Homo sapiens: one gene and its partners. The protein of the gene in region 5 purifies or fractionates together with the protein of the main gene of each other region. This does not show direct contact. Each region holds a gene or a part of one and is shown on either strand. Other genes may lie near its edges.

Region 1 (5,564 bases), on a different chromosome or scaffold from region 5:
AGACCCTGTCTCTAAAACAAAACAAGCCAAAGTGCAAAAGAGCCTACAAAGAATGCTCCGTCTAGGAAAGAGGGGAATATATGTGTAATGTTTATCTTTACAAAATTAAACACATGGGAGATAAACCAGGAGACAATTATGCTCATTACCAAAAAGCGAGGAGGAGGTACAGGAGGGAGTGGCTCCCTGCATCTGTCTTCAGGGGCAGTTTTGACATCTAGAAGGATGGTCACACTCTACAAACCTAACAGGATGGGGGTGTGGGGTATGGTGGGAGGCACAAGACTGAAAGCAAACGGGAAGGATGAACCCAGCTGTATTTCCAACGAAGGCACCACTACACTGACGGTGGAGAAGCCGACCCAAGGAACTCATGAGCACAGTGCTTGACGGCACCCGCAGTTGTGGGCAGGGAGTGAACTGCACACAATCCCGACCTCTTCATGGTGGGTTTGTTTTTGCAATCCTGTGGCAAAGCTGCACTGGAGCTCTCGAGCAGGCGTGCACTGGACTCCCTAGCAGATGCGTGAGGATGCTGCTGTTGCTGGGGGCCAGGGTCCTCAGGGTGGAGATGGGGGGTGGGGGAGAACCGTGCAAGGTGGGACGGAATCCAGGCACGGTTCTGTGCTGTTTCAGATCTGTACACACATATTACATATGTACGTGTGCAACTGCACGCAGCATGCCTGTCCTCCCTAGCCTGTCCACAGAAAGGGCCTAAAGCTCAGGCACCCCGTGGCATCGAGCACACCTCGTGTCTAGATCCCGGTCTCTAACGCTGTTCCCCACCAAAGGGAGCCAAGACCCACAGAGCAATGGCCGAGGCCAGAGGCCCAAGAGGACGCCCTGCCATGCCTGGTCATGAGGAGGTGCTCGAAGGAGAGGCACGGCACACAGGCAGAGCATGGCAGGGTTCCCGCCAGCAAATCTCGTACACTTTGAACACCAGGATAATTAAAGACAGGAGTGACTCACAGACCACTGAAGTCGGGAGGCAATCCACATGTGGCCAGCGATAAAAGAGAACAAACGAGCGTGGATAACCAGTGAATACCTGAGACACACAGGTGGATGGATGGGGGAGGGAGCCCATGTCTGTGGGATGCTGGGGCCAGGAAGCCTGCTCTCCAGCCCTCACCATCTGGCCTCTGTGGGAGTCAGGAAGTGTCTGCACAGATGTTCGCCAGACGCAATGGGAAAACCAGGAGGCATCAGGTGGAGAGGCAGCCCCAGGGCACCTGGGCAACAGCCACAAGCTCTCAAAGAGCACAGGAAGAAATCATGTCTTTATGCACACGTGTGTGCATGTGTGGTATGTATGCATGGTGTGTGCACGTGTGCATTGTGTGCATGATTGCATTGTGTGGTGTGTATGCATGGTGTGTGCACGTGTGCATTGTGTGTGCACGATTGCATTGTGTGGTGTGTATGCATGGTGTGTGCACCTGTGCATTGTGTGTGTGCATGCGTGGTGGGTATGTATGGTGTGTGCACGTGTGATCATGCATGTATGGTGTGTATGCATGGTGTGCGCATCTGTGCATTGTGTGTGGATGCATGTGTGGTGTGTATGCATGGTGTGCACGTGCATTGTGCATGCGTGGTGTATGCATGGTAATGTGCACGTGTGCACTGTGTGTGGTATGTATGCATGGTGTGTGCACGTGTGCACTGTGTGTATGCATGGTGTGTGCACGTGTGCACTGTGTGTGGTGTGTATTCATGGTGTGTGCACGTGTGCACTGTGTGTATGCATGGTAATGTGCACGCATGCACTGTGTGTATGCACGGTAATGTGCACGTGTGCACTGTGTGTGGTGTGTATGCATGGTGTGTGCACGTGTGCACTGTGTATGCATGGTAATGTGCACGCGTGCACTGTGTGTATGCATGGTAACGTACACGTGTGCACTGTGTGTGGTGTGCATGCATGGTGTGTGCACGTGTGCACTGTGTATGCATGGTAATGTGCACGTGTGCACTGTGTGTGGTGTGTATGCATGGTGTGTGCACGTGTGCACTGTGTGTGGTGTGTATGCATGGTGTGTGCACATGTGCACTGTGTGGTGTGTATGCATGGTGTGTGCACGTGTGCACTGTGTATGCATGGTGTGTGCATGTGTGCACTGTATGCATAGTGTGCACGTGTGCACTGTGTGTGGATGCATGGTAATGTGCACGTGTGCACTGTGTGTGGTGTGTATGCATGGTGTGTGCACGTGTGCACGGTGTGTGGTGTGTATGCATGGTGTGTGCACATGTGCACTGTGTATGCATGGTGTGTGCACGTGTGCACTGTGTATGCATGGTGTGTGCACGTGTGCACTGTGTGGTGTGTATGCATGGTGTGTGCACATGTGCACTGTGTATGCATGGTAATGTGCACGCGTGCACTGTGTGTATGCATGGTAATGTGCACGTGTGCACTGTGTGTGGTGTGTATGCATGGTGTGTGCACGTGTGCACTGTGTATGCATGGTAATGTGCACGTGTGCACTGTGTGGTGTGTATGCATGGTGTGTGCACGTGTGCACTGTGTATGCATAGTGTGTGCACGTGTGCACTGTGTGTGGATGCATGGTAATGTGCACGTGTGCACTGTGTGTGGTGTGTATGCATGGTGTGTGCACGTGTGCACGGTGTGTGGTGTGTATGCATGGTGTGTGCACGTGTGCACTGTGTATGCATAGTGTGTGCACGTGTGCACTGTGTGTGGATGCATGGTAATGTGCACGTGTGCACTGTGTGTGGTGTGTATGCATGGTGTGTGCACGTGTGCACGGTGTGTGGTGTGTATGCATGGTGTGTGCACGTGTGCACTGTGTGCATGCGTGTGTGGTGTGTGTGCATGTATGCATGGTGTGTGCATACGTGTGCAGCAGCACCTGGTCCCATCTCCAGTGCCCAGCAGCATCACACGCACTTTGGTGCTTTATAAATGCATGGTCAGTGAGGCTGACAGCACCAAGCTGTCCCTTTACCATAACACCTGGAATAGTCACCTGTGATAAGCTATCACATAGGAAACATTTTTAAAATTTCATTCTCATTATTTTCTGTAATCTTGAGAGGTTCCAATCAACATTTATTGCCTTATTCTTTTTATCTCATTCCTTTTTGAATGTGTTTATCTCCTAAGATTTTATCTGTGATGGAGATGGGATGCCTGTGAATACAAAAGTTGCAGTGGTGGCACCAGGGTGGGGGGGTGCGGCCGGGGCCACCATGGTCTCCCCTGAGAGGGGGTGCTGTCTTAGGTGCCCCAAGAGGCCCTCGGGCAGCAAGCGTGGGGTGCTGCCAAAATACAGCTCCCCCTGGGTGGGCAGGACACACGTGGCCTCCTGGCAGACAGGTGCCTGGGTGAGCCCGCTGCTCCTGATTAGTCATGAATGGCACCTGGTCTGGGCGACAGTCACCCGCAGGAAGCCCTGAGCTGGCCACCATCACCCTGGGCAGTGGCTCCCGGGGTGCCAACAAGACCTGGGCCCCTCGTTCTTTGGTGCTGAGAGCCCCAGCTGAGGCTGTGGAGGAGGCCCTGGACCTGGTCTGGTGTCTGTCAGAGGCAGGTGCCCAGTCCTTTGACTTGCTTCTCTGAATTGTCATAATTGTGCTGGAATTGTGCCAGAAACTGGTAGTGATAACAGCTCCTGGAAGGCCTGTGGCTGCTGAGGGCTGCCTGGTCCCCCTCAGGACGGCCGGGGGAGCCTCTCCAGAAGCACCAGCTTTGTCTGCAGGTGGACGTTGAAGGGGGGCAGTTGGGTCAGGTTCAGACTCACACCTGTGGTCCCCACGACGCTGGCCAGGACCCGGTGTGTGTCCCTGTAGAGGGCCAGGAGCCCAGGGGCCGCCTCCATGAGGATGTGTGTGTATGCCAGCATGCCTGTCCCCGGCTGCACATCCTCCCTCTTGTCGTACCTGTGGGATGAGAGCTGGTGGTCCTGCCCAGGGCCCCCACATCGCCCTGTCCCCCGCCCCCAAGGGGCCCTCACATGGCCTCTGGGAGGGCCGTGCTGTGTGTGGATCCTACCTCCAGGCGCTGTTGACTTGGAGAAACCGAGACACACCTGTCTGGGCGGCTGCCACGTCAATGTGCAGAAGGACGTCTAGGAAAACCAGGCCTGCCGTCAGAGCCCAGCCCTGCAGTCGGAGCCACAGCAGTCCCCAGGCAGTGCCCCCAGCACCCACCTGTCTGGGGGGGCACCAGCTGGTGCAGCCTCTGCATTGCGACGCCACCTGGGTAGTTGAAATGGGACACATACAGGGCCGTGGCTGAGTAGGCGGCATTCACCACGAGGTGTCCGATCACAAGCAGAGACCCCGCTTTGTACAGCCAAGACTTTTTATAGTTATTCAGCCTGAAAAAAGAATGGTTACACATCATAGGCAGAACGTAATGACAATAAAATTAATCTACCTACAAAACATACTAGGAGCATAACCTGCTGTTCAACTTCACCAAGTCATAACAAAGAGTTCACCACCAAATAAAACAGAGTCAGTAACCCGTAAAAGTGGTTAAGATACTGCCTCAAGAATTGTCTGTGAAATTCTACCCAAGATGCCAATTTAAAATTTAGATGAGATTTTAAAATATATATATATTTTTGAGACAGAGTCTCGCTGTGTCACCCAGGCTGGAGTGCAGTGCCATGATCTCGGCTCACTGCAACCTCCGCCTCCTGGGTTCAAGTGATTCTCCTGCCTCAGCCTCCCAAGTAGCTGGGACTACAGGTGCACGCCACCATGCCCATCTAATTTCTGTATTTTTAGTAGAGACAGGCTTTCACTATGTTGGCCAGGCTAGTCTTGAACTCCTGACCTCGTGATCTGCCCGCCTCAGCCTCCCAAAGTGCTGAGATTACAGGCATGAGCCACTGCGCCCAGCCTAAAAATATATTTTCAAACAATCCCAAGTGACTGTGTAGGTCAGAGTGCCACCCGCGCGGCCAAGCCCACTCCCAGCAGGTCTGAGTGAACTCTCTGGGACAGGGTGCCGCCGGTTCTCTCACAATCGACTATGCCAATCTCAGGATCCTACGGCAGAGTTAGCAGCTGCCACAGACAGTGTGGCCCACGAAGATGAGGCTCTTTATTAGCTGGTCCTTAACGGAAAAGCTTGCCAACCCTGGTCTAAACGCCCTGAACCCCCGATCAAGACTCACTCTCTTCCAAACCCACCAGGCTCCTCGGAGCCCTCTTCTCCACAGGCCCTGCCCTTTGCTATGGTTTGGATCTGCGTCCCCACCAAATCTCATGTCCAACTGTGATCCCCAATGCTGGAGGTGGGGCCTGGTGGGAGGTGACTGGGTCATGGAGGTGGAGCCCTCAGGAATGGATTAGCGCCATCCCCTCCATGCTGTTCTCCTCATACCGAGTGAGTTCTCGAGAGGTCTGCTTGTTTGAAAATGGGTGACACCTCCCCCGTCCCTCTTCGTCCTGCTTTGGCCACATAAAAGCGTGCCCGCTTCCCTCTCGCCTTCCGCCATAATGGAAAGTTTTCCCAGGCCAGCCTGGAAGCTGAGCAGACACCAGTACCACGCTTCCCGTACAGCCTGCGGAACCGC
Region 2 (5,564 bases), on a different chromosome or scaffold from region 5:
AAACAAGAATAGTGGCACAGAGTAGGCACCCAGTGAATATTTACAGAATCAGAAACTTCTTGGCAGCATTTAACACTGGGACCATAGCCTCTCTTATCTTGATCTCTGTTCTTTTATTACCTTCTCCTGGGTTTCCTCCTTCCACTCCATCTGGGAGCTTGTCCCTCAAAAATGCTAACAGTCTTTAGAGATCTATCTTCTATCCACTTTCTTTTCTTTTTTTAGAGATGGGGGTCTTGCTATGTTGCCCAAGCTGGACTCAAACTACTGCACTCAAGTGATCCTCCCACCTCAGCCTCCCCAGCAACAGGGACTACAGGTGTGCACTACCATGCCTAGCTTCTCCACTTTCATTCTGCAACCTTTCTCTGTATTTGAACAGCTACTATAACTCTTCATTCCTTACCTCTAAGCTCAGATTCATGCTCCAGTCCGGTACATTCAAATGATTATTGGACACTGTCACTGCTACCTCACAGGCACATAGAGCTTAAACCATCTAAAATGAACTCCCCTCTTCCTGTACAGCTTCCTCTCCTGTATCACCTGTCTCTCTACATCTGGAAGCACCACTCCTGCTTCTCTACAGTATGTGCTAAGTGTTCCAAATGGCTTACAGCTCCATGAAAAGGCCTAAGTCTGATCCAGTACCCACTGAGGGGCTTCTATTCAAGTGCACAGAAGCCTTCTCTCCTAAATTCCAATTGGATGCTAAAGGAGTAGGTACTGACCTAAGTATTCTTTCCCTCCAGGCCATGCAGTTGACCTTCCTCTATAGGTTTGCTGTGGGGAGGAGTAAAACAATCCTAACCACTTGAATAGGATTTATTATTCAATGATAAAATCTTACCATAGGAATTCTGTATGGAGGACATAAAGTTAAGGACACAGCTATAGCTTAGTAAGCTAATCAGCAAAGCCTTTGTCCAAGTATTGCTGGTACCACATTGCTGGGCAACATCACGAGCAGGCACAAGAGGTAGGCAGAGATGATTAAAACCCATCATCCAAGGAACAAAGAATTTAGGGCAATAGTTCTCAATCACCACACATATCGGAAATACCTGGGGAATAGAGCCTGGGACTTGGCTTAGACCTACACTGGAATCAGTATCTGGCTCTGAACCACATGGTTTTGTTACCACTCCCCATCACCCCCAGCCCTGCCACCATGCCTTGTATGTGTACACACTGAATGTGTACATGTGCATTGATGGGTAGGGGGAGAAACCAGAAATCTCCCCGGCTGCCTTTTGTAGCAACTGTTCTGTGATGAGAAAAGCAATGGAAACATGTTCAACCATAATGATGATTAAACGCGAATGTACGTATTTATGTTCCTTTCATAGGTTTCTCTTAAAGTTCTGATGATAATTTCAGGAACCTATTTTTATTTGAAAAATAGGACCATACCCTGTGTACAAGACTAATTTCTAAAGACACTTTATAAATGAGAAATATCTTACCAAAGTTACTATTGCACATTCAGCTGTTAGCTGTGCAGCACTAAAAAGAGTACGAACAAATCTGTAAATAAATTTGTGCTCAGGATCATGCTTAAAGTATTCCTCTGGAACTTTTTCTCGCTGAAAGAAGAAAAGATGCAATGTTAGTATCCACTGAAGAAAAAAATTTTAAGCTTTTTTTTTTTTTTTTTGAGACTGAGTTTCACTCTTACTGCCCAGGCTGGAGTGCAATGGCATGATCTTGGCTCACTGCAACCTCTACCCCCCGGGTTTAAGTGATTCTCCTGCCTCAGCCTCCTGAGTAGCTAGGATTACAGGCACCCGCCACCACGCCCAGCTAGTTTTTGTATTTTTAGTAGAGACGGGGTTTCAACATGTTGGTCAGGCTGGTCTCAAACTCCTGACCTCAGGCAATCCACCTGCCTTGGCCTCCCAAAGTGCTGGGATTACACGCGTGAGACACCACGCCCGGCCTAAGTACTTTTTTTTTTTTTTTTGAGACCCAGTCTTGCTCTGTCGCCCAGGCTGGAATGCAGTGGCACAATCTCGGCTCACTGCAACCTCCACCTCCCAGGTTCAAGTGATTCTCCTGCCTCAGCCTCCTGAGTAGCTGGGATTACAGGCGTGCACCAACATGTCCGGCTAATTTTTTGTATTTTTAACAGAGGCAGGGTTTCACCATGCTGGCCAGGCTGGTCTCAAACTCCTGACCTCATGATCTGCCCACCTCGGCCTCCCAAAGAGCTGGGATTACAGGGGTGAGCCACCATGCCCAGCTGGCCTAAGTACTCCTAAGACCAGCAGTGTTGACGTTTGAGCCCATGTACCCCTTAAAATAATTCTGGTTGAGTGACATGACTTTTAGTTTTTAAAATATAAACAATTGGATCTTAAAATATCATAGTGATTCAATACTCATCACCATTTATCATTAAGGAAAAATACAGGCACAACTCAGAAAATTTTTATGTTCCTTTCCACTTTCTATCCACAGAATTCTATCAAAATGTAAACTACTTGTAGGCTCGAAAGTCTTACTAATCATATGTTAGGATTCTCTTAAATACACTTTGAAAAATTTTTTTTTTTTGAGATGGAGTCTCACTGTCGCCCAGGCTGGAGTGCAGTGGAGCGATCTTGGCTCACTGCAAGCTCCGCCTTCCACGTTCACGCCATTCTCCTGCCTCAGCCTCCCAAGTAGCTGGGACTACAGGCGCCTGCCACCGTGCCCGGCTAATTTTTTGTATTTTTAGTAGAGACGGGGTTTCACTGTGTTAGCCAGGATGGTCTTGATCTCCTGACCTCGTGATCCGCCTGCCTCGGCCTCCCAAAGTGCTGAGATTACAGGCATGAGCCACCGTGCCCGGCCTGAAAAAATATCTTTAGTTTCCTGTAACCATAAGGCTCAAAGGCTTCACTGTCCAAGACAATAGTCATTAGCCACGAGCGGCTATCATATACCTGAGGAAGTGAATTTTTAAATGTTTACACCATTTTAATTGATTTAAATTTAAATTGTTTTCTAATTATCTTCATAGAGATCATGTATATTTGTTAGGACTATTTATAAATATCAGCATGAAATAAACACAACTCTATGAGAGAAAAATACTACCTCAAAAAAAGTGACACTTACTGTAAGTGGATGTGATCTCTCATCAAAAATATCCAGGGATCTATTTGCATCTCTATAAAATAAGAATATGCATTGAAGAAGTTAATTCAGGAATTGTTAATATCTGAGTAAAATGTCTGCTGGGGGTGGCGGGAGATGCCTCCTGTTTGCTTTGGTGTTTGCTTCACCAAAGCAAAGAGTTGTACAAATTCTTCTCCGGGATGCCAGCCTTCAGAGGATTTCCTGACCTCTTTTTACTCAGCATATGAGGTTCTGTACTGTGAGGTCTTTTCTACAATGACGATTCAGAATTGCCTTTAAGTATTGGCCCTCCCTAACAGGCAATGGTAATAAAGTATATTTTCACTCTTCTAACCCCTCATTGGAACTCAAGAACGTTTTACACAGCAGTAGTGGTGGGCAATAAACTCTTTAGAACTTTAATGACTGTGAATGAAATTCAGATTTCCCAGGCTTTTCCTTTCTAGTTCTCCGTATTACATTCTTGACATGTATTTGTTTAAGTAGTTTGATGAGTTAAAAACCTTATTGTCTTTTTATTTTAAAAGAGACAAGGCTTTGATAATCTTTACAAGTTTATAAAACTAATACATTGTGCTCATTTAATAAAACCAGTGGTTCTCCAAGTGTGGTCTGTGGACTTCTGGAGACCCTCTAGATCCTTTTCCAAGAGGTCCTTGAGGTCAAAACTGTTCTTTTAAGAATACTTATTCAACCTGAGAAAGCTGATTGAAAATTTAGAAATAAAAATAATTTAAAAAAAAAGAATACTAAGGTATTGCTTGCTTTTTGACTGTATGACATTTGTAATGAGTGTATAACAGCAAAAGTGGGCAAACTGCTGGCTTCTCAGCATGAATCAAGGCAGTGCTACCAAATTATACTAGAAGTTATGCTACTCTTTACTGCCTCTTGCAGTTTAAGAAAAACACCTGCTTCACTCATGAATATCCTTGCTGAAGCAGTAAAAATTAATGGTATTATTAAATCTTGACCTTTCTTTTCACTATTCTGGAGTAAGCAGAAAGTTCACATAAAGTAATTCTGCATACCGAGGTAGAGTTGTGTTAAGGAAAAGCACTTGTGATTTAATTGTGAGCTAAACAAGCCATTTTTTTTTCACAGAATATCATTTTTACTTGAAAGTACAAATGTCATTCTCAAAAATGAAAGAAGTGGCCAGGTGTGGTGGCTCATGCCTATAATCCCAGCACCTTGGGAGGCTGAGGCGGGTGGATCACTTGAGGTCAGGAGTTCGAGACCAGCCTGGCCAACAGGGTGAAACCCCATCTCTACTAATACAAAAATTAGCCAGGCATGGTGACAGGCGCCCGCAGTCCCGGCTACTCAGGAGGCTGAGGCAGGAGAATCACTTGAACCCGGAAGGCAGAGGTTACAGTGAGCGAAGATGGCACCAGTGCCCTCCAGCCTGGGCAACAGAGTGAGACTCAGTCTCAAAAGATAAATAAATAAAAAGTTTTAAAAAAATGAAGCCTGTCACTTCAAGAAAATAACACTATTTGTTGCAATGATAAAATTCAAGCTTTCAAACTAAAAATCAGGATTTGGAGAAACTTGTACCTTATTATGTGAGTTTAACAGCTTCTCAATACTTAAAGATTTTTTAATACAATTGGTGGTGATACTAACAAAAGTGAGCTTTGCCACTGTCAAGAAATGTGAACCAGGCTGGGTATGGTGGCTCACGCCTGTAATCCTAGCACTTTGGGAGGCTGAGGTGTGCGGATTGCTTGAGCTCAGGAATTCAAGACCAGCCTGGGCAACATGGTGAAACACTGTCTCTACTAAAAATACAAAAAATTAGCTGGTATGGTGGTATGTATTTGTAATCTCAGCTACTTGGGAGGTTGAGACAGGAGAATCGCTTGAACCCGGGAGGCGGAGGTTGCAGTGAGCTGAGACTGCACCACTGCACTCCAGCCTGGGTGATGGAATGAGACTCTGTCTCAAAAAAAAGAAAAAAAAAAGAAAGAAGAGATGTGAACCAATATTTTCCATATAACCAATGCATAATATTAGAAAACCAAGTAAGGGGAAATGATACATATATTGTACAAGACAGATGGGTGAGTACTAATAAAAAATTCATTGATAACACAAAATTCCACTGTAACCATTTTAAGAAACTAGCACTTGTGGAGTGTTGGGTAGTATTAAAGAATACTGGCCGGGTATGGTGGCTCATGCCTGTAATCCCAGCACTTTGGGAGGCTGAGGCGGGTGGATCACCTGAGGTCGGGAGTTCAAGACCAGCCTGGTCAACATGGCAAAACTCCATCTCTACTAAAAATACAAAAATTAGCCAGGCGTGGTGGCATGCGCCTGTAACCCCACCTACTCGGGAGCCCGAGGCAGGAGAATCGCTTGAACTTGGGAAGTGGAGGTTGCAGTGAGCCGAGATCGTGCCACTGCACTCCAGCCTGGGCAACAGACAAGACTCC
Region 3 (5,375 bases), on a different chromosome or scaffold from region 5:
TTAATGTTAAAGTGCCATTTGTAAACAGGAAAATGGCCTTTTTATTAAAATTGATGCTTTACACGTACAAGCCTTGTGTTGTGTAAGTTACTGAGGAAGAGACTTGTCCAAATCTGTATGTGCAGAGCAATTTACATGATTTGAGCCCTATTACTTAAATCACTACACAGTATGGCCTGGAAATCTGCAAACGCTTCCAGTTAAAGCAGCTGTTTTTTGTGCCTTTCATGGTGCCTCCAACAATGGCCCCCCAAAGTCAAATAATATTGGGCTAATGGAAAAAATAGTGAATTAACTAGGTTTCCTATTTATATAAAAATTTTGAAAACAGTCCTTGCATTAGATTTATATCAATTATATGTATATCAATTACATGCAGGAGAAGCAACACACCTAAGGTACGCATGCAGTTAAAACCAAATAGAGATAATTGACATCTTCTCCCTCAAGACAACATGAAATTCATCAATACCTGTCATGCAGCTGGTATCTTTCCCGAACTTCTTCCAAAATGATTCTCTTTGGTCCCTCTCCTCCAATTATGAAATTTAAATCTGGATATTTCTGACAGAGTTCAGGTATTATACCACTAAGCAAATCGATCCCTGAAAATATAAAGTTGAATGTTGGAGATATTAATATTTAAACTTAAAAAAATTCACCAGAACGACTGAGAATCCACTTATTTTGAAAAGTATTAGCTATGCACTCCATAAAGGAGAGAAACTCTCTTAAACCTTTTCCAGGAGTGGAATTGTTTGCAAACTGGCAGTGGTCCCCCAAGAGTTACAATTCTTGAAGACGTAGACCTTGACATGCATTACCTTCCACACACCCAAAATATGGACTATTCTGTTTCATCTCAACAGACTATTCTTTAAGTTATTCACTTGTGTTTATACATTGCGTACTTCTAAAAAAGGTATATTTAAGGTGGCTAAGGTTTGAGTTCGTTTTCTCCAGAGCAGGCAGCTGATTGGAGATCTGGGTCTTTTCCCAGCTTTTTTAACCAGCAAGCCCATTGATCGTGGGGAAGTTTCAAGATCTATAAAATAAAGATACCTATGTACCTAAAGTCTCTTTCAGCTATAAAATTCTATCAGTCTGTGATCCCACTTACTGCCACAGGAAAAGGCTAAGCAACGAAATCTAACTGCTGCCTCCACTTTGTTTAAAATGTGGCTGGTACAGAGAATTTTGCAGTGAACACTACATTATCGCAAAATTTAAGTTCAAACCAGCTATAGCCCACTTTCCTGGAATGAGGGTAAATGAAGGCAGCAGGGCATCAACTGTTAGATCACTACAGTCCATAGAACAAAAGGATGCATCTTGGCTCCTTTTTTCTCCAAAATGATTTTCTTATAATATATAAACACAATCTCAGGTAATAGAAAACAATAAAGTAAATTATGCCCTATTAGTCTGAAAAAGTGAGTGGCTATCCAAAGTCCCAACAATGTCAACACTATTTAAGAATCTAGTTCATTAACAATTACAAAACGTACATATTCAAAAGTAAGAGTAGGCAGGGCGCGGTGGCTCACGCCTGTAATCCCAGTAATCCCAGCATTTCGGGAGGCCAAGGCAGGCGGATCACAAGGTCAGGAAATTGAGACCATCCTGGCTAACATGGTGAAACCCCGTCTCTACTAAAAATACAAAAAATTAGCCGGGCGTAGTGGCGGGCGCCTGTAGTCCCAGCTACTCCGGAGGCTGAGGCAGGAGAATGGCGTGAACCCGGGAGGCGGAGTTTGCAGTGAGCCGAGATTGCGCCACTGCACTCCAGCCTGGGAGACAGAGCGAGACTCCGTCTCAAAAAAAAAAAAACAAAAAAAAAGTAAAAGTAAATATAAAATAATCCACCTAGAGCTAAGTTTATTAATTTTAAAAATGCACACACACATAAGAATTGTATTTCTTAATCTTCCACCCCAAATAGGCAGATCAGTTATAAAATAGATGATATTTTATATCAGATATAAAATAGGAGAAATGACATATATATTATAGGGTCATTTTTATTAAATAATACAAAGTAGAATTCATTAAGTAAACTCTGCTAGTACTTTCAAACTGTTATTGTATGTATCAAAAATTCCCACGCAGCTTTTCTGAATATGAAGGCTTCTCATTAAAATCATAGCTATCTTTGTTTCATGTCTACTAACAAATCACTCAATTGGATTTCTAGATAAACCAGAAGGTAGTTTAATGACTTTTAACATTTAGTCTCCTACAATTCCTTCAATCCATTTTCTTCCTCACCCTTTTCTTTCTCGTACAAGGTTAAGAGCCCATTCTTCAAACAAACAAAAAACAACATAGAGCAATAGTCATAAATGATAATAGCTAACAGTAACAGAGTGCTTGCTATGACAGGCAATATACTTTAAATTCATTATGTCATTTAATCCTGACAAGTATCTCATAAGAAATGGAACTGATTACTATTACCAATGATCTATATTCTTATTCTAAGAATAAGGGCTTTTCCCCACCACTATAAAAAAATTTATTCTGGAGCCTCTAAGAAGGGTATAATGCAATGGAACCTAGAGACTTTCGACTGCCATGTGAACACAAAACAGACAATGAAAATCTCTGATCCAAACTGCTTTTAAAGCTCAGTCTAACAATATTTTTAAGAACCTTCTGATCTACACCTAGGATATGAGTGGCTGGGCATGGGTGGAGGAAGAGGAGAACTTAGCTCCAGAAAAGCTGAACTCGTGTGTCATCTCTGTTACTTACTGTGTAACCTGGGTGAGTTACTTACCCTCTCTGAGACTCAATTTCATGTAGATAACATCTACCCTACAGTTGTTGGGAGGGTCAAATGAGGTATTGTACCACGAACAGGCTTTATCAACTGCAGAATACAAATGTAGGTTGTCATTACCACTACAGAAGGAAGCAGGTGAGCGTGCCTACACATGCAGAGTGCTGGTAAATCCTGACTGAGAGCAAAACAGGCTTGGAAGAGGAGGCTCAGGAAAAAGACATCCAAAAAGCCTGGATAAGGAAAACTTTGATTTATCCTCTCTCTCACTTAAGACATTCCAGTGGGACTTTGATATCTGGTCCAATAAACTCCTGAGGAAATTAATTTGTTAATAAGGAATGGACCATTAATACAACTACTCACTTTTGGGCTACAGGCATGGCTGTTCCTTTTCAGAATGTTACTTTCTGCAGGGTGCCTGGCATCTGGAGAGGGTTCGATAAATAACTGTTCAATTACTGAATTGAGTACAGGAAAGGCCATACCATCACTCCATTGGTGGTTAGCTCAGCTAGTTAAAATACCACATTAGGGAAGTAAAGGTAACAGGTTTAATCTTTGCATGGGTAGTTAATTTTGCTGATCCTTGATCACACTTGTGTCATACTCTTTCTCAGCTAGCCATCTCAAGAAGATATGCTATTTGGTTAAAAAATAAATTAGGTACAATTCCTAAGTTACAAAAAAACACATCACTAATGTCCCAGGAGGAATTCAGAATACAGAATGCCAGTCGGTTCACATGTTCCTGATTAAAGAATGAAAGCATGTCATTGCCTTCAAACCAGAAAATGAAGTTCAGGCCAAGTTTCCTTGCCAACCTCCACTTAAATGGACTGCTGGGTCAATCAAGATTCTCCATTCCAAACGTAAACTGACCAAGGCCCACATCTAGATTTTAGGCCACTCCCTAGCACACTGGCACACCACTGAATTCAGTGCTTGTCAAGAATCAATTGTTTGTTCACACATCTGTTTGATGTCAGTTGTACTTGTTATCGTCGTGTTGAGTAATTTAATTATCATATAAACTGACAAAAAGAGTATCCACAAAAACTAAGCTGAACAGTTTGAAAAATCCAATAAAGGAATGTCACAGAAAAAAGTTCTTGGCAGATGAGGGGTGTCCTAAACTACTGTATAAAATTGAAAACAAATTAAAACTCCTGAAGCATATCAGTTCATACGCCTTTAAGTTCTGACCCCACCCAAAAGAAACTCAAAGTAGCAATGGTAGATTATGTTTTATGAAGGAGGGTGTGCAAGATGCAGCTGAAACCAGTGGCCCAGCACTCAAAGCCTGCAATCCTACATCAAACTACGGGCAACTCAGTGTGTATTAATATTTTGAGTTTAATTCAAATATTAACTATTTAAGGGGGTATGTATTTATGTATTTTTTTTAATGATTCCCTACTATAAATGACACTTTTGATTAGTGGACAGGTTTTCAAATAGCACTCAGAAGACACTGTTTTTTATAACCAGACTGTGTCAGACTTTTAGTAAACAAGCCTCCACACATTCAACTGCAGTGTCCATTAAGTGCTGTAGAGGTACAAAAAACAGCCTCCTTGGCCAGGTGCAGTGGCTCACGCCTGTTAATCCCAGCATTTTGGGAGGCCGGGGCAGGTGGATCACGAGGTCAGGAGTTTGAGACCAGCCTGGCCAACATAGTGAAACCTTGTCTCTACTAAAAATACAAAAAATTAGCTGGGCTTGGTGGTGGGCGCCTGTAATCCCAGCTACTTGGGAGGCTGAGGCAGGAGAATCGCTTGAACCTGGGAGGCAGAGGTTGCAGTGAGCTGAGATCACGTCACTGCACTCCAGCCCGGGGGGTGACAGTGCGAGACTCCGTCTCAAAAAAAAAAAACCCAAAAACCTCCTTGATAATAGTGGACAGTTACAAACTAGGCTAATAGTTTATAGGAACTATCACTGAACCCTTGCGAGGTTCCCAATGTTGCTTACATTACACAAATGAAAAAACTGAGACTTAGAGATGTTAAGCTACTTGTCCTCGATCACACAGCAGGACAGACCCATCATCTGATCCCAGGACATCTAATCCCCTTTTCTTCATCACTTACCTGCCAATATGTTACTAATGTCTTATACATGATGAAATGAAACAAGCAAGCTACAATACAGTAACGTGCAGAGCAAGCCCACTGATTTTCAGTATATGTACGTACACATAAAAAAGACAGGAAAGCTATAAATCAAAATACTCATTAGGGTATCTCTGAATAATACAGTTACAGCTGATTTTAGTTTTCATCTTTGTGCTTTTCTTAGTTTCCAAAATATCTGCAATGAAAAGACATTACTTTGGCAATCAGAAGAAAAAAGCCATCTGTGAGCTCTGCCCTTTACTTCTTTTTTTTTTCTTTAGAGACGGAGTCTCGTTATGTCGCCCAGGCTGGAGTGCAGTGGCACGATCTCTGCTCACTGCAAGCTCCGCCTCCCAGGTTCATGCCATTCTCCTGCCTCAGCCTCCGGAGTAGCTGGGACTACAGGAGCCTGCCACCATGCCCAGCTAATTTTTTGTATTTTTAGTTGAGACAGGGTTTCACCATGTTAGCCAGGA
Region 4 (3,500 bases), on a different chromosome or scaffold from region 5:
GCGCTGGCACTGCTTCCTGCTGCTCCTGGGCCTCCACTGCAGCCTGGGGCAGGTGGAGGTCTAGGGGGTTGGCTGTCAGCCATCTATGATCTCTGACTTCTTTCTCTTTTCTCAAATGGTGGTATCTCTTCTTTGAATGTACCCCGGCGTCTGCTTCCTCTGGGGAGCTTGTAAGGATGAGCTGTGCTCTCAGCTCCTTGGCAATGGGTTCCAGGCAGCGTGCCGAGGGAGGGCAGTCAGGCCTGGGGGGCTGGCAGGGGTCTCAGTGCCGGCGCCTCCCCTGCCCTGCAGGATCTCCCCTCCTCACTGCCCTCCCCGAGTCTCCAGGATCAGCCGCCTTTTGGGGCTCCCTCCAAGGCCCTCTCCCCATAAAACCAGGTTTGGTTATGCCTGTCCTCTGCTCCCCAAGTCCTCCCCTGCACTGCCACTCCTGGGACCACAGACTGTGATCATCTTTCTCCAGCTGGACTCTGAGCTCTCGGAGAGCAGGAGCCTGATGTGGTCATTCTTACATCCTCGGGGCAGCCCAGCAGAGAGCCCTGCACACAGATGCCAGGCAGTACTGACTGGAGGAGCGAGTGTGGTGTGAGTCGTGCTCTGTGGCCCTGAGATGTAGGGGCTGTGGCGGGGGCTCAGCCTTAACCAGTGGAACTGTGGAGCCTAAATGAGCCGGACTTGATTTCTCCTCCACACCTAAGCTCAGTGGCCAAGGGGGCACAGTCCCCACTCCCAGCTCAGGTCACTCTAGTGGCTGCTCCTGGCAGTGCCTGGGAAGATGTGCAGTGGAGGAGGGAGCTTGGCTCTGGCTGTGGGTTTCCAGCTCTCTGTTAGGCAGCTGCAGGCCAAGGTGGCTCTGTGGAGTGGGGAGCATGTTCCTGTGGAATCCTTGGGGTCTCAGAGCCTCACCACTCTGGCCTCATAATGTGGCTCAATGAGCTTGAGTGTGGACAGCCCGAGGCCCTGGACACAGGTTCACTGGGCCTCCCAGAAGCCTCCGGCTGCCCTTTTCTGAACAGATCCCAGTGAGGTGGCTCAGGGCAAGCGAGACCTGCTCCTCCCCGGAGGGATCACACAGATGACAGGGAAATGCTCCTGGGGAATCAGAATGAAATTTACTGATTGAGGATAGGAGAGTGATGAGATCATATGAGTTTACTGAATCTGTTTAGCAGAATGAAAGGGCAGTGCCGTGTACTACAGCTCCTGGGGGGTGGGGAATAACGCCATGCCAGCTGTCCAGGTGCCCCTGAGAGGCAGCTGAGAACGCTGCCCTCCGCCGACCAACTTCAGCTAATAGGAACCAGGGGCTGGGGCTGGCCGCCTCTACAGGTCATGGTAGAATGATGTAGGCACGGGGGAGATACTGAAGGGAGGACTGGCCGTAAGACGCACGGAGCCCGCCATGCTGCTGTTAGTATCGATTCCTCGAAAGCCCCACAGCCTGCTGATATGGACTGGAGAGACCCATTGCATAAGTTCTGGATCTGGCCCAGCTGTGTCACCGCGGTGTCCCCTCAGGCCAGATGAGGTTAAGTGACATGGGCAGGGAGAGCGCTGGCACAGTGTGGGCCTCAGTGACTGGTGTGGTCACTTCATCTTCATTGCCCTCCTTCTGCTCAGAGGGGGGCGGTGTGGCAGTGGGACCAGCAATTCCTCAGCACCCACGGTGTGCTCACCCCTGGGGGAGGAGGTCATCTCCCCGTAGATGCCCAGTGGCATCTACACCAGCTGTCTTCTTTTTCTTGTTACTTGTGTCACTCTTCTTATTTCAGAGGTAGAGTTTAGCCTGGTTCACCTCTGGGCTTTAGATCCAGAGAGCTGGGTTTACAGTGAGCAAGTTCCCAGGGCTAGGACAGGGTTCTTGGGGAAAATAAGGGAAACTGTCCCTTCCTCCCACTCCCTGTGCAGAAATGGATTCGTTCACAGAGAAAGATGCCCTCTGTGCTGCTGAGAGACAGACTCTGCCCAAGTGAATGAGCTCAGCGCCCCAAAGCAGAGTTTTTGCCCAGGGCAAGAGGCTGCCCCCGTTCGGCATCTGTGGGGCGCCCATCACGTTCATCCATTTGCTAAACAGGCTCCTGTGTGCAGGGCAGCCCTCCACATCTGCCTTGCTTAGAACATCATGCAGTGTCAGATGCAGCTGAGTAGGACCCAGCCAGAGGAGGTGTGGCCAGTCCCCCAGGTGCTCCTGGAGGTGGCCCTGCCAGGAGCCTCTCCCCTGAGTGGTGGCACCCAGGATGCTGGCAGGACCTGGCATGCCTTCCCCTGAGACCATAGGAAGGGCCCGGAGTCTCTCACCACTCCCAGAGAACATCCCCCTACCCAGGATGGGCCCAGGAGGAGAGGTCTAGGCAGGAAGGGCCAAAGCCCAGCTCTCCGGCTCCGGTCCAGACTCCCCCAACGCCCACACACACAGGCACACACACAGGCACGCACACACACTCAAGCACATGGATGCACACAGGCATGCACACACAGGTGCACACACATAGGCACACATGCACACGAACACACACAGGCACACATAACAGGTGCATGCACACACACACAGGCACATGCACACAGCCACACACACGTGTGCTGGGAGACCCTCACATAGCTGGGAACTCTGCAGTGGGGAGAGCCCGGGTCACCCTGTCCTCAGCCTCCCCAGAGAGCCATGGCTGGTGTCCAGTCCAGTCTCTGCCTCTGGCCCCGACATGACGGGTTCTCCGGAAGCAGGGAATGAGATGTGCTGTGAGGTGTAACTGACTCAGGTTCCATCTGGCAGCCTCTCGGAGGAGCTGCCGAGTAGCCCAGTCCCTCTCTGTCAAGCCTAATTCTCTCCTTCTCTTTCCCTGTCTCTGTGTCTCCCTCCCGCTGTCTGTCCTCTCTCCTCCCTTCCTGCGGCCGCAGAACCGCATGCACGAGTCTCTCATGCTCTTCGACTCCATCTGTAACAACAAGTTCTTCATCGATACCTCCATCATTCTCTTCCTCAACAAGAAAGATCTCTTTGGCGAGAAGATCAAGAAGTCACCTTTGACCATCTGCTTTCCTGAATACACAGGTGGGTGCCAGGCAGTCCTGTGCAGGGGGAAGCCTGCCCCTGACAGGGACCCATGGCTCAGAGAACAGGCTGCTCGGCCAGCACTGCTGGGGCTAGCTGGCGAGCGGGACCCATTGCAGGAGACTGGTGGGGCGCAAAAGAAAAACAGTGCTGTGCCACCAGGTTTGGGCTTCCCAGGACACAGCCCTCAGCGTGGTGGAAATGGCCCCTCCTAAGATATATGTGTTAGGACCAAGTGACTCAGGAGTGGTGGGGAGCAGGGGGCAGGACAGGATCACAGGCTTCCCCCTTCCTCCTGGTCACCCTCTAGAAGAGGTCTCAGGACAGCCTCCTGTAATCTCAGCAGTGGCCTCCCCTCACCCCTGCCCAGAGCCCCACAGCACCTTTGCATGAAACCGAAAAGTGGACACGTGGCCTGTGAACAGGGCCTGGACTGCCTCTTGGCCCCACC
Region 5 (5,564 bases):
GACACCAGCTCGTGTGTGCAGCTAAGAGACCCACTGCTAGAAAGGGTTGTGGCCAAAGAACATCTTAAGTCTTCTCTTTCTTCCTTGCTCCTTTTTCCCTCTTCTCCATCTCTTTTCCCTCATATAAGTACCTACCTCTAACTTTGTGCTTCAAACAAACAAGGTAAATGGATTGCTACATTTCTAGGAGCAAGACACAGAAGCAGGCCAGGTACAAGGGTTCATGCCTGTAATCCCAGCACTTTGGGAGGCCAAGGCGGGTGGATAATTTGAGGCCAGGAGTTTGAGACCAGCCTGGCCAACATGGCGAAACCCTGTCTCTACTAAAAATACAAAAAGTAGCTGGGCGCGGTGGTGCACACCTGTAATTCCAGTTACTTCAGAGGCTGAGGCATGAGAATCACTTGAACCCATGGGGCGGAGGTTGCAGTGAGCCTAGATTGCCCACACTGCATTCCTCACCCTGGGCGACCAAACGAGACCCTGTCTCACAAAAAAAAAAAAAAAAGGTACAGAAGCCAATTCAGTGGTAGATCGTGAGTCACTGGCAGCATCTAATGCCAATATGGTACTGCTTCCTGCCCTCCAGAAAGATACAATATCCTAATGCACATATCGAGGGCTCTAAAGTAATCTTTCCCCCAAAAAAATGAGGAATTAACTTATCACAGGTTATATGTTCTCTTTTTTTGCATGCACCCCTGCCCTATTTATCCTACGGGATCTTTCTGTATGTGGTATGCCAGAAATTTAACATCATAAACTCTAATTTCCGAAGTTACATTATGCACACTGTTGTTCTGCACCAATTACAGAAAGACTAAAAACTTTACCAACTGGAAGGAAGTAAAGAAGGTATTATGGGCCGGGCATGGTGGCTTACGCTTGTAATCCCAGCACTTTGGGAGGCCAAGGTGGGCAGATAACCTGAGGTCAAGAGTTCGAGACCAGCCTGGCCAACATGGTGAAACCCTGTCTCTACTAAAAATACAAAAATTAGCTGGGCATGGTGGCATGCACCTGTAATCCCAGCTACCCGGGAGGCTGAGGCAGGAGAATCACTTGAACTCAGGAGGCGGAGGTTGCAGTGAGCTGAGATCACGCCACTGCACTCCAGCCTGGGTGACAAGACCAAGCCTCTGCCTCAAAAAAAAAAAAAAAAAAAAAAAAAAAAAAATCTATTATGGAATGAGGTTAAGGAAATTCCTTCATCAATGATGAAGAGATTTCCTCTCGCAGCCTTATTATCCAAAGAGAAAAATCACAGCAGGAAAAAGACTCTGCTACTTGGTTAGAATGAAGCTCTCTTAAGTAATTCTGATAGGCAAGAAACCAGGACATGAGATGCCACACAGATTAAATCCATCTTCTATAGCAGACAGTAACTTAATCTTCTAAGGTCTTTGGAAATATGGGATGCCTAGAAACTATGGCCCTCCCTCCTGAGTGTTTTCTTCAACAGGCCAGTCAGCCCTCTGAGGTTGTTTTACATTCATCTAATTCCCTCCAGTCCCCAAACTGGTAATTCAAAGGAAAAAAGCAAATATGCTATCCAAGTGATTCATCCTCATATCATATGACTCTCCTTGTCCCCTCACCCCACAGCCTACTCAAGCTAGTCTGGGTCATAAGATATTTTTCTGTGGGTGTCACTTCCTGAATGGCAGGTCACAGCAGACAACATACACCCATCTGCTTTTACCAACTCAGTACTCATATTAGGAACTAGCTAGGTCCATGTCGCTAACAATAACTGGTCGATCTTGAAGCCAGCTCCTTTAAAAATGCCTTCCAAGGATTTGAGAGGACAAGAAAAATACAGAACTCCTCCTTCTCCCTCCAAAAAGAATCAATTTATTCTTAAAGACAAACTAACTTATTTACTGGCAAATGCAAAATGCATATATTCACATCATAAGTCTTCAGAATTACTTTCTTATGCAAAGCAGCTAGCTAGAGTCCTCAGCAGTCTTCTCTGTCTCTGCTCCCCTGGAACCCCAGCCTCTGAATAACAAAGCAGCAGTAGCAACAGGCTCACAACTCAGAGAATGACTGACGAGTCCACTGTAACCCTCCGGACCCTGGACAGGGAAACCAAAAGGCAACTTGAAGCATGTCCCAGAACGCAACAGTCAGTTCAACTGAGGCACATTATGGAGTTCAGTAAGCTGGTCCTCAATGAAAAGGAGGCCAAGACACTCCTACTACTACTGGGGGCTGAAAAATACCAGGGCTGAGGTCAACTGGTAAATACTTCTACTTAAAGACAGAAAAAGTTGGGCATGGTGGCTCATGCCTATAAGCCCAGCACTTTCAGAGGATGAGGCAGGATTGCCTGAGGCCTGGAGTTTGAGACCAGTTTGGGCAATACCACAAGACTCTGTCACTAATTTTTAAAAATTAGCCGGGAATCATGCCTGTAATCCCAGCACTTTGGGAGGCCAAGGAGGGTGGATCACCTGAGGTCAGGAGTTCGAGACCAGCCTGACCAACATGGAGAAACCCCATCTCTACTAAAAATACAAAATTAGCCAGGCATGGTGGCACATGCCTGTAGTCCCAGCTACTCGGGAGGCGAGGCAGGAGAATCGCTTGAACCTGGGAGGTGGAGGTCGCAGTGAGCCGAGATCATGCCATTGCACTCCAGCCTGGGCAATGAGCGAAATAGCATCTCAAAAAAAAAAAAAAAAAAAATTAGCTAAGTGTGGTGGTATGCACCTGTAGTCCCAGCTACTCGGCGGGGAGAATCCCTTGTGCCTAGGAGATCAAGGCTGCAGTGAGCTAGAAGCATGCCACTGCACTGTAGCCTGGGTGACAGAGCAAGACCCCATCTCTAAAAAAGAAAAATTAAACAACAACAACAAAAAAAAAGCAAGCAGAACTTGAAGGCCAAGATTGCAGTCAAGTGTCATTTAAAGACTGACCTCTCAAACATCTTGATTTCCTTCTACCATAAGGAGAATAAGAAGCATTTCAATGACTCCAAAAGCATGAGTAATTATGGTTATGCAATAGTACAGGGGTTTTATTAAAGAATACTGCCTGGACTAGATCAATGAGGGAATGTTAGAGTATGAAGAATGGAGGAACAAAAGGGCATTCAGACAGAAGGGGAGACAAGTGCCTTTCAGGACTAAGTGTAAGCCTCAGTTCAATTCAATTATGTTAGCATTTGCTCAGGACCTAGCCTGTGGAGAACGATGTGCAAGCATTCTGCAGGCATTTGGTGGCTTTCCTAGACAGAGAGGTAAAATACCCTCTGGCCTAATTTCCAATGTTCACTTCATAAAATCAACTATGCTACTGAATAATCAAGAATACTCTTCTCATTCATGGAGAACAAACTCTAAAACCACTCAAATTGGAAAGACACCCACCAGTATTTAGCTGGAAAAGAAAATGACTACTGCCTAATTTTTCCTCACCATCCACTCTCTTCTTTAATATTTTGTGTTTTTTTTCTCTTAATAGATTTTCAATTCCTTTATTATATCTAGGAGAGAGCTTCAGTTTGATGCCAATATTATAAAAACAACTTTTCTTAACACCCATTTACTAATCTCCCCTTTTAACAAAGGAGGGGTGAGGTACAGATAGCTTAAGCAGTAGCAGTCCATGAAGTTGGGAATAAAAACCAAATCACACAAGAAAGCAAGAGGCCATGCACCAGCTGGTGTCAGAACCCACAACCAATTACTGGAACCTGAGCCCAGCGCAGTGGCTCACACTTATAATCCCAGCACTTGGGAGGCCAAGGCAGGTGGATCATTTGAGGTCAGGAGTTCAAGACCAGCCTGGCCAACATGGTGAAACCCCATCTCTACAAAAAAAAAAAATAGAAAAAATTAGCCGGGCATGGTGGCATGCACCTGTAGTACCAGCTACTCAGGAGGCTGAGGCGGGAGAATCGCTTGAACCCAGGAGGTGGAAGTTGCAGTGAGCCAAGATCACACCACTGCACTCCAGCCTGGGCAACAGAGCTAGACCCCCCTCTCAAAACAAACAACAACAAAAAATTACTGGAACCTGGAACCCAGCGGGGTTCCTATATCTAATCAGCAATGACAAGGAGGAGGGTGTCATGCTATGCTAAAAGAGGTCCTTTCTCCAAGAACCTAAAATGTAAGACAGTTCAAGCATATCATTCACATCGCACAGTGAAATATACAGAAATTACCTTTTATAAAAGTCTTCTTTTAAAGTTTCATAAACATTAAGTGGATAGTTCTCAAACGTTTTGGTCTCAAAAAGTTTAAACTCTTAAAAATTAGGCTGGGTGTGGTGGCTCATGCCTGTAATCCCAGTACTTTGGGAGGCCAAAGCGGGTGGATCACCTGAGATCAGGAGTTTGAGACCACCCTGGCCAACATGCTGAAATCCTGTCTCTACTAAAAATACGAAAATTAGCCGGGCATGGTGGTGGGCGCACCTGTAATCCCAGCTACTTGGGAGGCTGAAGCAGGAGAATTGCTTGAACCCAGGAGGCAGAGGTTGCAGTGAGTCGAGATCATGCCTGATCTAGCCTGAGCGACAGAGTGAGGCTCCATCTCAAAAAAAAAAAAAAAAATTATTAAGGACTCCAAAAAGCATTTGTTAATGTGGGTAAAGGCTATATCTCATATCTTAGTATTCAATCTGTTTCAATATCACACATCATGTAGTCTCTGGAAATCTCCACTCTCCACTCCTAAGTAAATGAGAATGAAAAAGGCAAATAAAGTCTTAGAATTATGATGAAAATAATTTTGACCTGTGGACCCCAAAAAGGAACTCCCAGAGGTCAAGATCCCTGGGCCACACTCTAAGAACTGCTGTATTCTATGGTATAGGTTGGAGGAAAATAGTAGTCCTTGATTTAGCTATTTAGGTAGAGAAGCCTTATTTACAAGTTCATTCTTACAAAAGGAAGGGAAGGGCTTGTTGAAATATATAAAACCATCCAGGCACAGTGGCTCACACCTGTAATCCCAACACTGGGAGGCCAAGGCTGCAATGAGCCAAGGTTGTGCCACTGCACTCCAGCCTGGGCGACAGGGTGAGAAACTGTCTCAAAAATATATATATAATAAAATATAATAAAATTATTTTACTAAAACGTTAAGAGGCAGTCAAGTTTGTCATACATGTAGGTCTCGAGATTTTAAGCATCATCTACCAACTTTTTTTTTTTTTTTTTTTTGAGATAGAGTCTTGCTGTCTCGCCCAGGCTGGAGAGCAGTGGCACGATCTTGGCTCACTGCAAGCTCCGCCTCCCGGGTTCACGCCATTCTCCTACCTCAGCCTCCCGAGTAGCTGGGACTACAGGTGCCCGCCACCACGCCCGGCTAATTTTTTGTATTTCTAGTAGAGATGGGGTTTCACCATGTTAACCAGGATGGTCTCTATCTCCTGACCTTGTGATCCGCCCGCTTCAGCCTCCCAAAGTGCTGGGATTACAGGCGTGAACCACTGCGCCCCATCTACCAACTCTTATAGCCTTATTCGATACCATGTACCCCAAGAACCCTAATTAAGCAGTTAGTAGGAATGTTTTTAAAAATCTGATTGAGCTGCCCCAACTAAGT
Region 6 (5,564 bases), on a different chromosome or scaffold from region 5:
TTACTTACATATATAGTACTTACATATTTTTTAACCATTTAATAATGGCTGATTGTCATTCATTATTATCCCACTTCTACTCCATGTTCTCCATGTTTTACTCTTACATTTCCTTTTTTTTTTTTTTTTTTGAGATGGCATTTCAATCTTGTTGCCCAGGCTGGAGTGCAATGGCACGATTTCAGCTCACTGCTGAGCTGAATCACTCCCGGGTTCAAGCAATTCTCCTGCCTCAGCCTCCTGAGTAGCTGGGACTACAGGCACCCGCCACCATGCCTGGTTAATTTTTGCAGTTTTAGTAGAGACAAGGTTTCACCATGTTGGCCAGGCTGGTCTTTAACTCCTGACCTGAGGTGATCCACCTGCCTCAGCCTCCCAAAGTGCTGGGATTACAGGCGTGAGACACTGTACGCGGCCTACACTTCCATTCTTTAATCAAACCTACAAAAGCTGGAAGTTTTCATTACTCAAATATTCAAAATACCAAATGCTTTTAATTTTCTCAGAAAAATCAGAATTAGAGGGGATAAATTCTCTATCAAATATGCCCCTATTTTTCCTTTTCTGATTTCTCTACCAAAAGTTGTTTTACTATCCTTCATACAAACTTTAAAAATGAGATTCATTTAATTTTGGCATTTGTTTATTTGACTGCATGTCTTAAATGTGCCAAGGTTTCAAGTCTGATTATAGTTATTCCAGGACACAAGCAACACTGCGTTTGGCCAGATGCTTTTAGTAAGATAAATACATATAATATTCACTGTGAGTATATAATCCTGACCACCAATTTCAACAAAGAAATAATGGAAAAATAAAAACAAGAACCCAAGATCAGATGTTCTGACAGCACATGCAGCTCAATGAACAAATTGCATTTACATTCATTGTGCATGTTTCACTTTCAGACAGCACACAAGGTCAAACTACTAACTGTCAGTTACAATAAGCTTCTAAACTTCTGGTCAATTACCTGGCTAATAACAAAAGACAAGGCTATGACATCATTATGGTTATAATTAATTTACACAGATCAGCTTCCTGTTAATCAAATATATCTTTAAAAGCATTTAATTATTTTTCACCTAGAAAGCAACATTCAGCTTTGTTAAATGAAAAGCAATCTTGCTGAATTTAACACGAAAGGCTGTCAGGCTGCTCTAAGACATAAAGAACAAATGGCTTCACAGGGCACACTGCTGCAATACAGGAGCTGTTGCCACATTCCCAACAAACAGAAGCACAAGATGATGGATAATACAACACATTTTAACAGTTTCAGAATATAAAGAAGTTGTCAGGGAACTGAAAGTAAAGAGATGGGCTTTGGGAAAAGAAATGTCCCAGTGCTTTTTGCCAAAATTATATACAAGGGTGGCAATATTAACATATGCAGCATAGGACAGCAGTTAAGGGCATGGTCCTTGGCTCTACGATACACCAGCCACGTGCTCTTAGGAAAGTTAACCTTCAGAGTTTCACTTGTAAAAGATAACATAGGCTCATTTGGTTTCACAAGGATTAAATGGGATTATATATGTATATATATTTATTACACAAAATCACAAATTGTGACAAATCAGACTTAAAATAGTTTTAAAATGTTTTTGTGATAACATAGTAACTAATTAGCATTTTCCATGACTTTCTGTGACCCTACATTTTAAAACTGCATAGTGTGATTAAATTACACATGCATTTTTTAAAAAGTATAACAAATATAGAGAAGAAACCTGAAAGCAGAAATTATGTTTTTCATTAAAATAAACTTTATGTAAAATCTCAAACCAGGATCTCTGTCAAGATTATCTGATGATTTGAGAATTTAATAAGCCTCCATTTTAGGAAGAAAAAAAAAATGTCAGCATCAGCTGGCAAAATTCTTTCTCCACCTTTTAAAAGTGTTATATAGTATAAATGAAAATGATTAGACTATATTTATACATAAAAAATAATGGCTAAAAAATGAAATTACCAGATTTTGTATATAATCTTAAATTTTGCTCCACTGCTAGGTGAATTAGTGCCAACTCCAATTCTGACCCATCACCATTTATGATTTCCAGTATCAATCATAAGCCAGTTTCTTCTCTCATAAACCACACGGTTTAGTGTAATGAGGGCTCATTAAAGTTCTCCAACTGACAGCCCTTCAGACCTAGGTTTTTAAACCAGGAGGCACACAGGGAACAGCAATGCCAGCGTCCCATGATCGCTCCTTCAACAGGATTTAAGTAGTTCCATATTCAGGTTTACTCTGCACCAGATTTCTTTGTCTACCTAAAGTCAATGAAAAAATGAGAGCTACCACCACTCCCTGCTCTCATTTAAATTAATCTGTGTAAGAAGTGTTTGTGAATTATTTATGTAACTCAAGTCTTCCCTGCACAACAACTAGTGAAAAGGGGGAAAAGCATGCCATGCTTCAAATATATGTTATATTACCACAAACCACATGGGATGTCCACAAATTATTAAGTGATAGGGAACAGCTTAGGGCTTTTTGCCTGCATAGCATCAATACTTCATTCTTTCAGTAACAGGAATCTGTCTCCCACTCCCATTGGATGCGGTCTTTGGCAAGGGGCCGGGGGGCGGGGGGCAGCTATCAATCAAGGGTGCCATTTCCAATACTGATCCAAGGTGATAGTGACCAAAGTTGGAATAATAACTATTTCCCTGGAATTTAAAAGTTGTGCTGAGAAACTATGTGACCAACAACTTTTGAAGCTGGTTCTCACAGCATTAATTTGAAGAGTTTTCCAGATCTACCAAGTCTCCCCAAACCTCAAGAGCTCACTTAGCTGCTGACCTTTATGCACATAAACCAGAAAATCTAGAAGAAATGGCTAAATTCCTGGACTCATACACCCTCCCAAGACTGAACCAGGAAGAAATTGAATCCCTGAATAGACTAATAAATGAGTTCTGAAATTGAGACAGTAACAAATAGCCTACCAACCAAAAAAAGCCCAGGACCAGATGGATTCACAGCTGAATTCTATCTACCAGGGTACAAAGAAGAGCAGGTATCATTCCTGCTGAAACTATTCCAAACAATTGAAAAGGAATGACTCCTCCCCAACTCCTTCTATGAAGCCAGCATTATGCTGATACCAAAACCTGGCAAGAGATACAACAACAAAAAGAAAAATTCAGGCCAATATCCTTGATGAACCTCAAGGCAAAAATCCTCAACAAAATACTGGCAAACTGCATCCACCAGCACATCAAAAAACTTATCTACCACGATCAAGTTGGCTTCATCCCGGGGTGCCAGGTTGGTTCAACATATACAAATTAATAAATGTGATTCATCACATAAGCAGAACTAAAGACAAAAACCACATGAGTATCTCAACTGATGCAGAAAAGGCCTTCGATAAAATTCAACATCCCTTCATGTTAAAAACTCTCAATAAACTAGGGATTAAAGGCACTTACCTCAAAATAATAAGAGCCATATATGACAAACCCACAGCCAATATCATATTGAATGGGCAAAAGCTAGAAGCATTCCCCTTGAAAACCAGCACAAGACAAGGATGCCCTCTCCCACCACTCCTATTCAACACAGTATTGGAAGTTCTGGCCAGTGCAATCAGGCAAGAGAAAGAAATAAAGTGTATTCAAATAGGAAGAGAGGAAGTGAAATTATCTGTTTGCAGATGACATGATCCTATATCTAGAAAACCCCATTGTGTCAGCCCAAAAGCTTCTTAAGCTGATAAGCAACTTCAGCAAAGTCTCAGGATACAAAATCAATGTGCAAAAATTGCTAGCATTCCTATACACCAACACCGGCAAGCAGAAAGCCAAATCATAAATGAACTCCCATTCACAACTGCTACAAAAAGAATAAAATACCTAGGAATACCGCCAACAAGGGAAGTGAAAGACCTCTTCAAGGAGAACTACAAACCACTGTTCAAAGAAATTAGAGAGGACACAAATGGAAAAACATTCCATGCTCATGAACAGAGAGAATCAATATCATGAAAACGGCCATACTGCCCAAAGTAATTTATAGATTTAATGCTATTCCCATTAAACTTTCATTGACATTGTTCGCAGATTTAGATAAAACTATTTTATGGAATCAAAAAGAGCCCAAGTAGCCAAAACAATTCTTAGCAAAAAGAACAAAGTTGGAGGCATCACACTACCAGACTTCAAACTATACTAAAAGGCTACAGTAACGAAAACAGCATGGTACTGGTACAAGAACAGATACATAGACAGATGGAACAAAATAGAGAACTCAGAAACGAGACCACACAACTACAACAACTTGATCTTTGACAAACCTGGCCAAAACAAGAAATAGAGAAAGGATTCCCTATTTAATAAATGGTGCTGGGAGAAATGGGTAGCCATATGCAGAAAACTGAAACTAGACCCCTTATATTACATACAAAAATTAACTCACAATGAATTAAAGACTTAAATGTCAAACCCAAAACTATAAAAATCCTAGAAGAAAATCTAGGTAATACCATTCAGGACATAGGTATGGGCAAAGATTTCATGATGAAAACACCAAAAGCAATTGCAACAAAAGCAAAAATTGACAAATGGGACCTGATTAAACTAAAGAGCTTCTGCACAGCAAAAGAGACTATCATTAGAGTGAACAGACAACCTACAGAATGGGAGAAAATTTTTACAGTCTATCCATCTGACAAAGGTTTAATATCCACAGTCTACAAGGAACTTAAATTTAGGAGAAAAAAACAACCCCATTAAAAAGTGGGCAAAGGACATGAACAGACACTTCTCAAAAGAAAACATACATGCAGCCATGAAACATATGAAAAAAAGCTCAACATCACTGATCATTAGAGAAATGCAAATCAAAACCACAATGAGATACTATCTCATGCCAGTCAGAATGGCTATTATTAAAAAGTCAAAAAACAACACATGCTGGCGAGGTTGCAGGGAAAACAGAATGCTACTACACTGTTGGTGGAAGTATAAGTTAGTTCAACCACTGTGTAAGACAGACTGGCGATTCCTCAAAGACCTAGAGGTAGAAATACCATTAGACCCAGCATTGCCATTACTGGGTATATACCCAAAGGAATAGAAATCATTCTATTATAAAGATACATGCATGCATATGTTAAATGTGGCACTATTCACAATAGCAAAAACATGGAATTGACCTAAATGCCCATCAATGATAGATGGATAAAGAAGATGTGGTACATATGAAATATTATGCAGCCACACAAAGGAATGAAATCATGTCCTTTGCAGGGACATGGATAAAGCTAGAAGCCATTATCCTCAGCAAACTGACATGGGAACAGAAAACCAAACACTGCATGTTCTCACTTATAACTGGGAGCTAAATGATGAGAACACATGGACACAGAGCAGGGAGCCACCACACACTGGGGCCTGTCAGGGAGGTGTGGTAGGCAGGGAGGAACAATAGCTAATGGATGTGGGGCTTAATACCTAGGTGACAGGATGATCTGTGCAGCAAACCACCATGGCACATGTTTACCTATGTAACAAACCTGCACATCCTACACACGTACCCTTGAACTTAAAAG

Evidence for each region.
Region 1: the proteins of PI4K2A (region 5) and ALG12 purify together in Homo sapiens (affinity purification with mass spectrometry; one large-scale study listed by BioGRID and IntAct). This does not show direct contact.
Region 2: the proteins of PI4K2A (region 5) and CCNYL1 purify together in Homo sapiens (affinity purification with mass spectrometry; one large-scale study listed by BioGRID and IntAct). This does not show direct contact.
Region 3: the proteins of PI4K2A (region 5) and PIGA purify together in Homo sapiens (affinity purification with mass spectrometry; one large-scale study listed by BioGRID and IntAct). This does not show direct contact.
Region 4: the proteins of PI4K2A (region 5) and GNAO1 purify together in Homo sapiens (affinity purification with mass spectrometry; one large-scale study listed by BioGRID and IntAct). This does not show direct contact.
Region 6: the proteins of PI4K2A (region 5) and RHBDD1 purify together in Homo sapiens (affinity purification with mass spectrometry; one large-scale study listed by BioGRID and IntAct). This does not show direct contact.

The regions. Positions count from the first base shown.
Region 1 is NC_000022.11:49,900,152-49,905,715, forward strand, and holds the end of ALG12 (dol-P-Man:Man(7)GlcNAc(2)-PP-Dol alpha-1,6-mannosyltransferase), read right to left. Parts: intron 4,356-5,564; coding exon 4,186-4,355; intron 4,104-4,185; coding exon 4,028-4,103; intron 3,916-4,027; coding exon 3,687-3,915; 3' UTR 78-3,686; downstream 1-77. UniProt on the Homo sapiens protein: Mannosyltransferase that operates in the biosynthetic pathway of dolichol-linked oligosaccharides, the glycan precursors employed in protein asparagine (N)-glycosylation.
Region 2 is NC_000002.12:207,738,245-207,743,808, reverse strand, and holds part of CCNYL1 (cyclin-Y-like protein 1), read right to left. Parts: intron 3,155-5,564; coding exon 3,103-3,154; intron 1,587-3,102; coding exon 1,467-1,586; intron 1-1,466. UniProt on the Homo sapiens protein: Key regulator of Wnt signaling implicated in various biological processes including male fertility, embryonic neurogenesis and cortex development. Activates the cyclin-dependent kinase CDK16, and promotes sperm maturation.
Region 3 is NC_000023.11:15,325,442-15,330,816, forward strand, and holds part of PIGA (phosphatidylinositol N-acetylglucosaminyltransferase subunit A), read right to left. Parts: intron 5,207-5,375; exon of another isoform or gene 2,873-5,206; coding exon of another isoform or gene 2,780-2,872; intron 606-2,779; coding exon 473-605; intron 1-472. UniProt on the Homo sapiens protein: Catalytic subunit of the glycosylphosphatidylinositol-N-acetylglucosaminyltransferase (GPI-GnT) complex that catalyzes the transfer of N-acetylglucosamine from UDP-N-acetylglucosamine to phosphatidylinositol and participates in the first step of GPI biosynthesis.
Region 4 is NC_000016.10:56,348,489-56,351,988, forward strand, and holds part of GNAO1 (guanine nucleotide-binding protein G(o) subunit alpha), read left to right. Parts: intron 1-2,895; coding exon 2,896-3,049; intron 3,050-3,500. UniProt on the Homo sapiens protein: Guanine nucleotide-binding proteins (G proteins) function as transducers downstream of G protein-coupled receptors (GPCRs) in numerous signaling cascades.
Region 5 is NC_000010.11:97,645,223-97,650,786, reverse strand, and holds part of PI4K2A (phosphatidylinositol 4-kinase type 2-alpha), read right to left. Parts: intron 1-5,564. UniProt on the Homo sapiens protein: Membrane-bound phosphatidylinositol-4 kinase (PI4-kinase) that catalyzes the phosphorylation of phosphatidylinositol (PI) to phosphatidylinositol 4-phosphate (PI4P), a lipid that plays important roles in endocytosis, Golgi function, protein sorting and membrane trafficking and is required for prolonged survival of neurons.
Region 6 is NC_000002.12:226,841,315-226,846,878, reverse strand, and holds part of RHBDD1 (rhomboid-related protein 4), read right to left. Parts: intron 1-5,564. UniProt on the Homo sapiens protein: Intramembrane-cleaving serine protease that cleaves single transmembrane or multi-pass membrane proteins in the hydrophobic plane of the membrane, luminal loops and juxtamembrane regions.